Homo sapiens: one gene and its partners. The protein of the gene in region 2 interacts with the protein of the main gene of each other region in a pairwise test. Each region holds a gene or a part of one and is shown on either strand. Other genes may lie near its edges.

Region 1 (3,500 bases), on a different chromosome or scaffold from region 2:
TAGGATTACAGGCCTGTGCTACCACGCCTGGCTAATTTTCATATTTTTAGTAGAAACAAGGTTTCACCACATTGGTCAGGCTGGTCTCAAACTCCTGATCTTAGGTGATCCACCCGCCTAGGCCTCCCAAAGTGCTAGGATTACAGGCATGAGCCACCGCACCCGTCCTAGAGCTAGTAAGTTTTAGGGCAATTTTTTCTGCAGCAACAGATAATACAGAATCTTTATAAACTCTTTGTTGAAATTAATTCCCTTCTTCCTAAACAGTAGCTTCTAGTTTCAACAAAATAAACCCCTCTGAATTCCCAAAATTGCCAGGGGGAGCAGGGGGTGGGAAAAAAGCACAGCACACCCTCTGATCTGAGAGCTTGCTAATTCTTTCATACTCCTAACCACAGAAGACTGTAAAGTGAGAACTGAAAGAGTAACTTATACCTGTTCCAATTATAATAAGGAGGTACAGAATTACTTTATCACCTACAATCAAAAGTTGGTATTAATAAATTACCATCTGGGTTTGTTTCTCCCCATTTAAGAGCTTATTAACCAAGTAGCTTAATAAGAGGTGTTTTTTGCATCTAATTAATAGATATCTTAAAGTTTATGGCTTACATCGTCATTCTAAAAAACTTTTCTTAGTAAATAATAATGCACTTAACAAAAATAAAAGTTGTTTCAGAATTTAGAAAAACGTGGAAAAAAGTCACTCTTAGATCTACTGCCCAAAGGTATTTTTGTTCTATCGTTTTCCAGTTTTTTTCCAGGGTAGAGGTGGCACACTGGTAACCCTTTGTAATCAGACTTCTGAATCTAGTAGTAAACAAGACTGAGGGAGAGGTTATTCAGAGAAATATCTCACATCAGTTCTGAAATTATTCCTATAAGTAATGAGAATATATAATAAAAGAATTTCTTTTTCAGTTTCATTCAGACAGTGCCATGAAAGGCAGCAACCTCCGCAGGTTGACAGGTTCGATACTGTGACTAGTACAATCAGGTATACTTTGCAGAGACAGAATTTTCCTCAGGACTCTGCTATTGAGCTGGGGGCTGTGCCTCAGAGAAGTCCACCCATCCTTTCAAGACTTCCCTTTTCTTAGAGCTAACAGTGATTCATCTTCAGGTAGATGGAACGTCTTCTCACAGTAAATTTTTAAAGAACATGGATTCTGGGGCCTGCATATCTAAGAATGTCTGAGCCACTGCACCCAGTCTTCAACCCCTTTTAAGATTTTTCTTTCCTTAGTCTTGAGCATATGTGAAAAAAAGAAAAACTAAAATAAAATATTTTTTTAAAATCTCCGTCTCAGTAGAAGTCTCTTCTCATTAATTTTCGCTTTTAATCTTAAGACTTAATTTTTCAACTCAAGAACACTTTTTTCTCTTCAGTTGTATCTTCTTCTCCAGCACTTTGGTTTCTTCCCTGGGAATATTTACATACTCACAGACTTGGTCTCTTTGTTTAGAGCTACTAAGTTTTAGGGCGATTTTTTTCTGTAGCAATAGAGAATACAGATGGCCTATTGCCAAGATTTCCTCAAACTACAAGGCTGATAGAACCACACTTGACAATGAAATGGAGGCCCACGTTAGAAGTGCTGAGCCTGCCCTGAAGGTAGATAGCAAGCCCCTGCATCCTTTCTCTACAGTCACCTTGCAGTTCAGAAATGCAAGGCCAGTTTCAGTCAGAAAATCAGGCAGCTACAGGTTGAGGCAGGGTGTGGTTCTATCCTTCTCTTCCCATTGAGCATCATTCAGTTTCTTTTTTCTTTTTTTTTGAGACAGAGTCTCGCTCTGTCGCCCAGGCTCGAGTGCACTCAAGTGCAGTGGTGTGATCTCGGCTCACTGCAAGCTCCGCCTCCCGGGTTCACACCATTCTCCCGCCTCAGCCTCCTGAGTAGCTGGGACTACAGGCGTCCACCACCACGCCAAGGCTAATTTTTTTGTATTTTTAGTAGAGTCGGGGTTTCACCATGTTAGCCAGGATGGTCTCGATCTCCTAACCTTGTGATCCACCTGCCTCGGCCTCCCAAAGTGCCGGGATTACAGGCGTGAGCCACCACGCCCGGCCTGAGTATCTTTCAGTTTCTATTTGGTGGCTCTAACTCCCAGAATACACTTGGATAGGGAAGCTTAGTGTTTTCTGTGTGTATTTGTGTTTGAGGGTAGGAAGCAGTTATAGGGTATTGAGTCCTAGAAAGTATAGTCTTCAAGAACAAAGATTCCAGTTGACATGGGCAGAGAAGTGCATTCTGGAGACAGTACATTCTGGAGACTGCAGTGTTTTCTACACCTTCATTTACGGCACACTCCTGGAATGGGGTCAGAATCAAGCAGTGAGGGTTAGATGATCCTATCTCAGTCCAGCATAGCTGTATGAGATAAAAGCCTCCCAGTAGCACTGGGAGCACTGGGCTAGGGGCTCTGCATATTCTCTTGGCCAGCTGTAGATCTGAGAATGGCAGTTACCTATGTCCACGGGAGTAGAGAAGGGGACCAAGGGTAATCTATGCACCCTTGCTGGCAAATACCAAGAGGCCTTTGAACAAATTCTGCGAAATAAGAGAAAAGGGAATATCATTCTAAAAGTTGAGAGAAAGAATGAATCTTTGAAGATGACTGCCAGTGGGAACCACAAGAATTCAAGTGGGCAGTTGAGGCTACTTACCAGTTAAGACATTACAATGGTGGGAAGTAGACTGTGACTGAAAAGAATCGCAGCATCTCAGTGTTACAAGGGATCTCAGAAGCCTTCAGTTCAACCTTCTCAACTCCACAGCAACTAAGTAAGCGGTCATCAAGCCCATGTTTGAATCCCCCCACCTGATCTAGAAGTTATTACGCATTACATGGTGAAACAATTCACTTCATTTTTACAGAGTCCTAATTTTTAGAATCTTATTTTTTAACCGCAGCAACATTTAACACTCTGTACTCTCTATCCCTGAGTTCTGTCCTGTGGAGCCACACAGAACAATCCCAATATTTCTTTTAAGAGGTAGACTCTTTTACGAGATGGATGTTTCTTTCAAGAGATAGACCTTCAAGTACAATAGTATCATATCGACCTCCCAAGCTGTGTGTTTTAGTTGTCCCTAAGGATACTAGCAGAACTGTGAATATACCCACATAAGCACACTATGCTAGCTATTCGAGAATCTCACATGCAATACTACCAACTGCAACAATGGTAAATATATTCTTGGTCAGCATCCCTACTTACAGAATAGAAAACAGAACACCCCCACCTACCATACATATTCTTTTACACAGCTCCAGGAAACCCTGATTAATGACCTCCACTTGCAAAGGAGGCTACTTACCTTAACCATGAAATAATGAATGCTATTGATCCAACAAGCTACTGCTATAGAGTGTTATTGATCACCCAATCTTTGGTTAAAATGGTCCTCATTTAGCAATTTCACTGTCACAAACACCTGGAGCAAAGCACACTCATAATTAAAGAGTTTGGGGGAGTTAAAGTGAGAGGTGATGGA
Region 2 (3,908 bases):
ATAAAGGCGACCCCGCTCGTCAGTCAGACCAGGGCAAGCTTGCCAGGGCTTCACACTTCACCAAAGGGAACCCTTTCTGCCGCGACTACCGAGCTGCCAGGGCCGGGACAGGCAGAAGCCTGCCCCGAGGTCTCACCTCTGGAGGGTTACGAGCTGTGCCAGGCCGGCTACGGTAGAGGGTGTGCAAATACCCCGCGGTCCCAAGGCTCCTGAAGCTGCCTAAGGGATATGAGAGACCCTAGGTTCGAATCCTGCCTCCATCGTCTTATGTTCGTGCCTCAGGAGAGTCACTTTGCCCCGTTTCCTCGCATACCAGAGAGCCCAGTAACACGCTCCGCGGCTCTGCGGAGAAAAAGACCCTAGAGATCGTGGACACAGCGTCTGGGCCGTATCAGCGCCCACTCGAGATTATTACTGCTTATGCCTGCAACCGGATGCTGTGCGCCCGGTTAGAAAAGGTCAAATAAAACTCGAGTTAGGGGAAGCCTGTGGACGCCATGTGTACAAAGTGAAGTTTAATCAAAGTTACAAACGTTGGTGGGTTTTCCGGGACAAAGGCCCCTCCTCGACGCAGGGTTCGCTTGGGCGACGCGTCGACTCTCGGCTCCCTGCAGTCAAGGCGCGGCGCGGCCCCCGTGCCGCTTCCGGTGCTCGTTGAGGTTGGAGCGTTGGCTGAAGGCGCGGCCGCAATCTCCGCACGCGTAGGGCCGCTCGCCCGTGTGCGTGCGCAGGTGGCGCACCAGGCTGCAGTTGCGCACGAAGGCCTTGCCGCAGTCGCGGCAGATGTAGGGCTTCTCGCCCGAGTGCAGGCGCTCGTGCTGGCGCAGCTCGGAGCAGCCGCGGAAGGTCTTTCCGCACTCGGAGCAGCCATAGGGCCGCTCGCCGGTGTGCGCGCGCTGGTGTTGCACCAGGCCCGAGCGGCCCTTGAAGGCCTTTTCGCACAGTGGGCACGCGTAGGGCTTGGCGCTGCTGTGAGTGCGCTGGTGCCGGCTCAGGTTCGAGCGCTGGTTGAAGGCCTTGCCGCACTCGGGGCACGCGTAGGGCTTCTCGCCGGTGTGCACGCGCCGGTGCTCCACGAGGTGCGAGAACAGCCCGAAGGCCTTGGCGCAGTCGGCGCACTCGTACGGCTTCTCCCCGGCTCCCGACCCCCGTCGGGGACTCCGCTCGCTGTAGTCCCCGCAGGGCGGGCACCCCAGCCGGAAGGCGCGCCGCGCCAGGACGGGGCCACGCCGGTGGCGCTCGGCCGAGTGCGTCTTCTGGTGGCGGTACAGGCCGGAGCAGCGCACGAAGGCCTTGCCGCACTCGGCGCACTCGTAGGGCCGCTCGCCCGTGTGGATGCGCTGGTGCTGCAGCAGGCTGGAGGTGCGCGTGAAGGCCTTGCCGCACTCGTCGCAAGCGTACAGTCGCTGGGCCGGGGGGTCGGGGACAATAGGGCGAGGTCGCGAGGTTTGGCCGCACTCAGGACACACTGGGGGACTCTTGCCCGCCTGCTGCTGCTGGTTGGGGCGGAAGCGCTTCCCGCACCGGGCACACGGACGGGGCTCCTCCGTCGCCTGCAGCCTCTCCTGGGGGATCCGCAGGGCCCTCCACGCAAAGGCCTCGCCGCACGCGCAAGCCCGGGGCTGCTCCACCAAGGGGTTCCTCCCGCGGGAGGTCGGCTTTGGGGTCCTCGGGCAGGTCGGAGCGCCAGTCCCTGGTTGGCACGGCCAACAGTCCGTGTGGACCTCACACAGTTGAGTCCGGGGGTGGTTCTGGATCCGCTCCGGACAGGGGTCACACACGGGTGGCGTCTCCCCAGCGGGCGCCCCGCGATGCCACGCCAGGCAGGAGTTCCTGCTGCAGTCCCCGCCACGCGCTGGGCTCCTACAGGGGCCCTCCCGGGCTTGCAGCCCCTCGGGGATAACCAGCTCAGGGTTCTGAGAAGAGGTGGGGCCGCACGGCTCCCGCACGAGGGGTCTGGTCCCGGCGCTGTGCCGGGTCCCCGGGCCGGGGCTCACCCCGAGGCTGCAGCCCCGGGAGCCCCCGCCTGGGGGAGTCGTCCTACCGCCCGCCGCTCCACGCAGGTCCCCCTTTTGAGTGGGGCGGCTCCCAGCTCGGTCCTCTTCGAGGGGCCTCGGCTCCTCGGGCCTCTTCTCCCGGGCCCCGGAGGCACCCTGGGCATCGGCCTTGGGGAGTCCTCCCTGCCCAGCCTTCTGGGCTGGAGCCTCCATCCTGGGGCGCAGAGTTCTGGTTGTAGGATCTGGAAGAGCAGAGAAGAAATGGAGGTTGGCGGTTCCCAGGAGGAGAGAAGTGGAGAACTGGGCCAACGAGCGACCACCCCACAGCTGGCACCTACTGGGCGGCCCCCAGCTCTCTGCAGATGCGAAAGGGTAAATGGAGTGACATAGGCAGCCCGTCCTGCCCCTCTTCAAATTGTCACCACCCAGACCCCAGAGAACAGCTTCCCAGGCTCTGCCTGCCCGCCATCACCGTTCCTCCCCAACACTAGCTCCTAAAACACTGTGCCCCTGGCTAAGGCCCTCCCTGGTCCCCCTTCCCCAAGCAACAGGGACTCCCCCGTTGCTCAGCTGCCAGCTCCCCAAAATCTCACTTACTCCTGCCCTCCGTTTCTCAGTGGCAAGCCGACACTCCGGGTCCTCCTGGCTCCATTCACTGCCATTGTCCATGTCTTCTGAGAGGTGTGAGGTGAGACTCACCTGACAGCTGAGAGCCTGGCCGGGAGATCCACGCTGCAGAGGCCAATGCTGGACTTCCCCTCCCCTCTTCAACCAGGTAACGGTGGTGCTCTCAAGGCTGGCAGCCTCATCTACAAAATGGGTATGATAACGGTAAGTATAACCAGCTGAGTAGGGAGACAGGCAGCCCAGATCATTCAAGCAAGTGTGAACATTAGCAACGCCTGGCGCCTGCTATTACTATTTTAAAATTACACTGTGGCTGTATTAGTTATCTATTGTTAAAGCTGCTTTAACAAACTGCCACCCCATAGTGGCTTGAGACAGTGCAAACTTGTTATCTCAGAGTTCTGGAGGTCGTAAGTCCTAAGTGAAGGTTTCAGTAGTGTGGGTTCCTTCCAGAAGCTCTTGGGGAGGACGTTTGCTGACCATTTCCAGCTTCTAGGTGCCACCTACTTTTCTTTCTTCCATCTTCAAGCCAGCAGTAAGACATGTTCATCTCTCTCTTTCTGGGTTTGTTGTCAAATCTCCTTATACTCCTTATAGGATTCTGACCCTTCTGCCTCTTGTGATCACACTAGGCCAACCACACATAATCCAGGAATCTCCCCATCTCAAGATCCAAAACTTCATCACACTCAGTTCTTTTGCCTTGTGAAGTAACATAGTCAGAGGTTCTAGGAAACAGGACGTGCAGATCTTTCAGGGGGCCATTATTCTGCTTACAACAGTGGACTTTGCTGAGATACACACACGTGCATATATAAATATTCATCTCCTAAGCAAGCAATTGAATAGCAAGTGAAAACAAAGGACGGCCGGGCACGGTAGCTCACGCCTGTAATCCCAGCACTTTGGGAGGCCGAGGCAGATGGATCACCTGAGGTCAGGAGTTTGAGACCAGCCTGACCAACATAGAGAAACCCCGTCTCTACTAAAAATACAAAATTAGCCAGGCATGGTGGTGCGTGCCTGTAATCCCAGCTACTCAGGAGGCTAAAGCAAGAGAATCACTTGAACCCGGGAGATGGAGGTTGCAGTTAGCCGAGATCGCACCATTGCACTCCAGCCTGGGCAACAAAAGTGAAACTCTTTCAAAAAAAGAAAAGGAAAAAAAGAAAAGAGAGAGAGAGGGAGGGAGGGGTGAAGGCCGGGGGGGGGGAGCCGGGCGCGGTGGCTCACGCCTGTAATCCCAGCACTTTGGGAGGCCTAGGTGGGCAGATCACGAGGTCA
Region 3 (3,500 bases), on a different chromosome or scaffold from region 2:
TTTTGTTCATAGAAGGACCGTGTGAACAGCGAGACGCGGCGTCCCCCAGGAGGTGTGGCTGCTGCATGTGTAACTGACAGTGTGAAGAGCTCCCACAAATCAATGGGAAAAACACCTTGGTAGAAAATGCGCACGGCCTTCGCCGGTGAGGAAACCCAGCGGGCAGCAAACCAGGGCAGCCCACCCCAACAACGCTGGAGGGACAGTGATGGGGAGAAGCGGTTTCAAGAGTCTGTTCCGATCTTCCAGAGCTGACCCTATGCGCACCCTGTGCCCCGGAGGTTCCACTGAGGGTGCACACCCAGAATCGCAGCCCACATCCCCAGACACCCGCACAGGAGTTTCCTAAGGTGGCCCAGGCTGCACAGTGCCCGGCAGTCTGCCAGGGAACAAACGGATTTCAGGGAAGCCACCATGACAACAGCAACTGGTAGCTCCACCTACCACCACAAGGGACCCTCACAAACAGAATAGTTTTGGTGAAAAAAAGCCACCCCCAAAACACAGGCTGAAGGAATCCAGGTATGAGGTCCCAAAGCAGGCAACATACAACCATCTCTGCTGGGGATGCCCTCTCAGGTGGCAGAACCACGAGGACAGCAAGGAACCACTGAGCACAAGGTCGGTGTCCCGGTGACTGCTTGGAGTAGGATGGGGCTGTCTGTGGGGAAGGGTCTCGGGGGATCTTAGGGGCTGGCCGGGAGCAGGATGGGGCTGTCTGTGGGGAAGGGTCTCGGGGGATCTCGGGGGTTGGCCATGTTGAACTCCTTGACACAGGTGGTGGTCGCCAGGTGGTCGTTCTAAACTTAACCACTGAACTGTGCGGATATTTATTAATGTCTCTGCAGGCCTATCACAGTTCACGACTTTGAAAAATTCTATTTTGGGGGGAAAACGTGGACACCAAACAGGAGTAGCTCTGGGCACCCCAGGAGCCATGAGAGGCGACTGACCCACTTCTCTGTTTGACAGAGGAGGGAACCGAAGCTCAAATAGAAAAAGGGGCTGCCCAGCAGCACGCTGCAGGAGGCAGGCAGGAGGGACCCTGTTTGGAGGGAGAGGAGGGGATTAATTTGAGGGATTAGAGGCACAGAGGCTCTGAGCACACGGAGAGCCAGCCGGGACTTGGTAATATCTATAAATATTTGAGAGTCACAAGAATAGTTTTTCCAAGCAGTCGAAGACAAGATAGCTGAGTGTGGCTGAGCAAGGGTCAAAGGACAAGAGCCAAGGTGGCCAGGCCATCAAATGGTGTGGCTGCATATCTACCATGTGGCCCCCCGGCCTGTGGGAGCCCTACTGTGCGCCAGCCTCTGCCAGGCACTGTGGCTGTCAGAACACCAGGGGCCAGACCCCGGCTCTGTTCTCTGGGGTGCCCATCTGGGGCCCTGGGGAAGACAGAAGACACCCCAGATGTCAGTGGGAGCCCCACTGACCTCCACTCCCCACCCCTTACCTGTCTTCCCTAAACACATCTGCTCTGGGCAGCCCCCAGGCCTTTGCACCTCTTGGAGGGTGGCCTGTCTGTCCTTGGAAACTCCTACCCATTCTTCATGCCTTGGCTCAAGTGTCCCTGCTTCCCGGAAGCTCTTCCCAATACCCCAGGCCAGGGTTCACAACCTGGGACCCCAGAGCATTGTGGGCAAACCCCTTCTGTATTCTGTCCGCTGGCCTAGGAGGATCTGTTGTGGGCCTCTGTCCCCGGCACTGGAGGGCCAACCGGGTCTTTTCACAGAGCTGGTACCCAGAGGGGGCTGGAGTCCACTTGGGAGGGAGGGGCAAGAGCGTCATGAAAACCCCAGGGAAAAGGCGACAGGGAAGACACAGAGTTTGTCATGTGGACAAGAAGGCAGGGAAGGGCATTCTCTACAGCAGGGACTGCGTGGGCAAAGGCAGGGGCATGAAGGTGGCAGCTTGTGGGGAACTCGGAAGCAGGGCGACAGCATGGGGGGGCAGCCAGTGGGAGGGACCAGGGAAGAGAGACCCCTCAATGTACACCTGCCCACCAAAGGGAGCCATTGAGGGCCACAGTGCCACCAGGTGACATGGTCCTTTTGCTCTTCAGCAAATATTTACAGGACTGTCCCATAAGTCAGTCCTGGCTCCAGGCCCTGGGGGGTGTGGGAGAGGAGGGGGCCAGGACCAGCACTCTCAGAGCTCAATCCAGACCCACAGACCCAGCCTGTGATGTGCAGACTCCACAGTCCAGGGGCCAGGAGGCAGGACCGACCATAGGGTCATCCCTGTGGACACTTCAGGACCCCTTCACTGTGACCACCGTGTGGTCTGAGGTTCCCCAGAGACCCTCTACCTGGGCCTGCTCTGGGCCAGGTCCCAGGAGAGATGCTTCCACCACAGGGGCTCACGGCACCCAACATCCCTGCAACCTGGTTGTGGTTAGGACACCCACTTTACAGATGAGAAAACTGAGGCCCAACCAGGGCCAGGACTTTGTCAGTGACTGGGTCTGTGGGACCCCAAACCCTGTGCCCTTCTGTGCAGGAAGCCATGCTGACCAACTTCCCTTCCACTCCCCTGGGCTTTTGGTTCTGAATCCCAGGCACCAAATGCAGGACAGAAACCCACTGGGGCAGCCCCGACACTGGCCAGAAGGGAAGATTCTGGAAAAGCCCTTCAGGCAACTCTGAGAACACTAATTGGGTGAGAGGGAGAGGAGGGCAGGACCCCTCCCCAGTTCTAGGAGTCCTTGCCCCACGCCACCCCTGGCAACTCCAGAAAGGCCACATGGCCCGATGCAGCCCAGGAGCCCAGGCCCTGGCCACTGCCTCCAGCCTTTATGGCTTAGCCCAGGGAAGCCTCAGCCCGCCTGGGACAGCAACGCTGACGCCATCAGCAGCTCAGGCAGCAGATCCGCCCACCTGGCACACCTGCCTACCTGTGCACCCAGCCGGGCGGGGTCATGCCTCTGTCCTCAGTGCCTGGCACACAGGAATAGGTGCCGGAGAGCCTTGGCCGGGCACAGGGAAGGAGGGAAAGAGAAAGAGAACCACCGCAGGGAACCCCCAGGCTGGCCTCAGGGCACCCCATGAATGCTAAGTTTTTCCTCAAGTCTCAGCTGAGTTAAGCAGTGTTTCCTCCCCCCCACAGGCGGTACAACCCAGGTGGTGAAATGACAGCCAATGTGGGGCACCAGGGAAGGGCCCTGGCCTGGGCCAGAGCCTGAGTTTGGGCCTGAGGTCATCTGTGTGACCACAGCCAGGGCTGTCGCTCTTTGGGCCTCACCGCCCCCACCTGGACCTTGGCCACGACAAGGTGGGCCTGGCTGATGGGTATCAGGTATTTGGGGTCTGAGATTGAACCACCTCAGAGACTGGACCCCTCCTCCCAGCACAAGACATGTTGGTCCTGTCCCTGTGGGACCCACAGTGGGGGCTGCACATCAGCTCCATGGCCCAGGAGATGGCCCTGCTCTGAGAGTCCACCCTGGGTCTCTGTGTGAGCCCACCTGCCCCCAGGCTCCCACCTGGGTGTTTCCAAGC
Region 4 (3,500 bases), on a different chromosome or scaffold from region 2:
TGGAATTACAGGTGTATGCTACCAGACCCGGCTCATTTTTGTATTTTTAGTAGAGACGGGGTTTCAGCATGTTGGCCAGGGTGGTCTTGAACTCCTGACCTCAAGTGATCCACCCGCCTCAGCCTCCCAAAGTGCTGGGATTAAAGGTGTGAGCCACGGCACCTGGCCTCAATCATTTTTATAATTCTTTTTTACATTCTAGCCAATGTGGAAACCCCTCCAGGCACAAAGCAGGAGACACCCCTCACTACTGAGGAAGGCCCTGCTGGCCCTGACTATGGTGGAAACGTGACTTCACCCCTCCTTCTGGCATACTTGTTAGGATCTCCTGGCATCAAGCGGCACCCTAATAATACCTTTCCCACGATTTCTACATAGGTCCTCTAAAAAACAGTAATTCACCTTTAAACCACCTGGCCACATGAGAATGTGATTAACAATTATTCCTAAACATTGTGGACAGGTAACCAGAGTTGGAAAAGGGTCTGTGTGGGCTGCCCCTCTCCACTGCACGCAGGAAGCTGAAAAAGCTGCACTGATGGAGGCTAGGAGTCCCCAAAAGGCATTGGAGATGGAATAAAAGTAGGAGCCATCAACAGCACTCCAGGTGAGATCCCTGGGGTCAAGAGAACGGCAGAAAGACAGGTCCCATCCTCCTTACCCAAAGACAGGAGGTCAAAGCACCTCTTTTCCCCAAACCCACTGGAAAAGGAACACATGCAAGAAAAAATATTGAGACCCAAGTTCCTGCCTGACATTGGTAACAAGACTAAGAAATCACCTGTTTTTTTTCATTCAGCTAACTTGGTCATAGTGCTTAGAAATAAGTTCCCAATTCAAATCAGCGAGGCTGAGAGACAAACCCCTTTTTTTCTCCTGGTGGATTGGGCCTGCAGAGGATCTTAAAAGACAATGTTATTTTTTTGTGTTGGGGGGACACTGAGTCAAGTGAATAACCATCCTTGCAGGTGTTTCCCACTGGGAAAAATGAAATCTGATGACCCCACTCCCACCCACAGGGACACAACACAAAGTCCTGGATGTGACTGTACTCCAGGGCCTGCTTACCAAGTCACCTGGGGCAGGACACCAACACCCCTGTTGGAACCCCAGGGCTGGGCCGGTGTTCAGTGAGGGTGCTTGTCAGGCCGTCTGGCCCTGAGCAGACCACGTGCAGCCTCACTGCTGCTGGTGCTCTTTCTCCTCCTCCTTTTTAGCCATTTTACTGATCATTAGTGGCAGTACCAGGAGGTGGGCAGGGGAACATAAAGGAGCTGAAATTCAAACCAGCCCATTTTACACCACTTAGGTGCCTCCCATAAAACCGGGCAAGATTTCATCATCCAAGAACTCCCTGTCCTCTGTCCTGTGGAGGTCTAAGCAGCCTGAGGGGTCAGGAGCTACACCATCTCCAGACCCCAGGATCAGGAGCCTCTATCTCTAATTATCATGAGCTCTTGACTGCGCATGGTATTTTCTGTCACTTCAGGGTTAACAGGCATTTCCAGCCATGAGCTGGCCCATCAAGTCAACGCCAGGAAACCTGCAGAGTGGGAGTGCTGGGGCTGCCCTCAGAACCGAAGCACACTCTCCTTGTCCCTCCAAAGTCCCCAGCACAATGGCAAGTTCACAAAGGAAGTGAGCCTTGCCAGACTGTGCTAGCAAATTCCCATAAATACTTGGGTCGGGGTAGTACTGCTTATGTAAAATGCTTCCCCATTGAGAGATGCTGCTTTATTTACATTCTTCACAACCCATTCATAAAAAGGAGGCCCTTTAATGTCGGGGCTGTTCGTATAATGCTCCATAAACTCGGCAGCTTCGCCTGGCAGCCTTAGTTCAACACAGGCTACTTCTCAACTCCAGAGACTTTTTTTCCTTAAGGTTTTTATTCTCCTTAATGACTCACCTTGCGACAGGGTGCTGAGGCCAGATGTTGCCGGAGCAAGGCCAAGAGGAATAAGAACAGATAAAATGAAAACACACAAGTCCTCCTGGATGCTGGAACAGAGAGGTGAGGAGGAATGAAAATAATTTTGAGAATTCCCCATAGAACTCCAATTTGAAGTATGTATGCTAGGAGGCTGAATTCCTTCCAGGTTTACTAAAACTTCCTTTCTGGATGTCAAATGTGCCCCAACTTATACCTCTAACCAGAGAAGGTGTGAAAGGGTTGTTTTTTTTTTTTTTTTTTTTACCCAAAAGGAGCTCTCTCTAGTTTTTAATTTGCACCGGGGATGAATAAATAAACAGAAATTTTCTCTGTTTCTTGATATAAGTGTTCCAGGGGCTGCTGGCTCCAGAAGGGGCACAATTTGCTCAGAGTGAAGAAACTCAGGCAATCCCCAGAAAGAGAGGAAGGACTGTGTTCTAGGACACACAGCAAACACAGCTAAAGGAGCTGAGAAGAGAGCCCAGGAGATGCATTCTGAGGTAGCTTTTCTCCTGCTACAGTAGAAGGAGGAGAGAAGTAGTAGGGATTTTTTTTTTAATTGACGGGGGAGCGGTCTGCATTGCCATGGCAACTGTGAGGGGTGGCCTTCCCGCGTAGAAGGGAAATGCTGGTCCATTAATCATCAAACTGGGGCACAAAAGGGAGGTTTGGGGGAAAGGGGATGGATGCAGAATATATTTTTTCACTATCTGGCCTCTAACCAGTCACCAGTCCTCTTTCCCGTTTCCCCCATGGTCCAGGGTTGATGGTGAACCAAAACAGAAGCCTGAGAGAGCAGGGATTGTAGCTTTCCTTTATGAGGGGTCCAATGTGGGGCTGATTGTGCCTCTTATGTTGGTGATGCCCCCATAAACACCTCTTCCAAACCAGCCCCAAAAGTCCCATCTATGGGCCAGACCCAGGAGTATTTTTCTTTTCTGTGCTCAGAATTGTGTTTTCTCCCTCATTTGCACCCGGTTTGAGAAGAGATAAAACATGGATTCATTTAGCATGAACAACAAGGAAAACTGCATAAGAGCAGCAAAGCTGGGTAGAAAGAATGGTGGTCCGGTGAGGTAGGAGGAAAACAGGATTACAGCCCTTTTCCAATGTCTATATGGTATCACATAAGCAATCCATAGGACTCTTCACCAGCAGAAATATTAGAAACAGCAGTTAAATTTCCCATTTACAGCACCCCAAACATGCCCTATCCATATGCCTTTGACAGAAAGGGCTGGAAATCTCCAAGGACTCCAATATGAGCATTTCTGGAGAAGCTGAAAGGAAGGTCTCCCCCTTGTTCCTGCCTAACTCAGCAACCAACCACATTTATTCACTCAACAAAAATGATGTGCACAGCACTGTACAAGAAATACCAGAATATTCACACACACACACACACACACAGAGGTTTAACACTCATATTGTTCCTGTCCTTAAGAAATTTCCAACCTACAAAACCACTCAAGAGGATACCACGTTAGAAAATCCAGAGTCATGAGCTCAGGCGGGGATGACTATGTTGGCCTGGAGTGGTCTGAGCAACAACCAGACTAAGGACAAG

What was found.
Region 1: the proteins of ZNF837 (region 2) and GPATCH2L interact in binary tests that used the Homo sapiens proteins (3 or more experiments, as listed by UniProt).
Region 3: the proteins of ZNF837 (region 2) and BEGAIN interact in binary tests that used the Homo sapiens proteins (3 or more experiments, as listed by UniProt).
Region 4: the proteins of ZNF837 (region 2) and BAHD1 interact in binary tests that used the Homo sapiens proteins (3 or more experiments, as listed by UniProt).

What each region holds. Positions count from the first base shown.
Region 1 is NC_000014.9:76,158,422-76,161,921, reverse strand, and holds part of GPATCH2L (G patch domain-containing protein 2-like), read right to left. Parts: intron 1-3,500.
Region 2 is NC_000019.10:58,367,123-58,371,030, forward strand, and holds the end of ZNF837 (zinc finger protein 837), read right to left. Parts: intron 2,807-3,908; 5' UTR 2,697-2,806; exon of another isoform or gene 2,595-2,696; intron 2,240-2,594; 5' UTR 2,211-2,239; coding exon 615-2,210; 3' UTR 501-614; downstream 1-500. UniProt on the Homo sapiens protein: May be involved in transcriptional regulation.
Region 3 is NC_000014.9:100,563,418-100,566,917, forward strand, and holds part of BEGAIN (brain-enriched guanylate kinase-associated protein), read right to left. Parts: intron 1-3,500. UniProt on the Homo sapiens protein: May sustain the structure of the postsynaptic density (PSD).
Region 4 is NC_000015.10:40,443,953-40,447,452, reverse strand, and holds part of BAHD1 (bromo adjacent homology domain-containing 1 protein), read right to left. Parts: exon of another isoform or gene 2,052-3,500; coding exon of another isoform or gene 1,910-2,051; intron 1-1,909.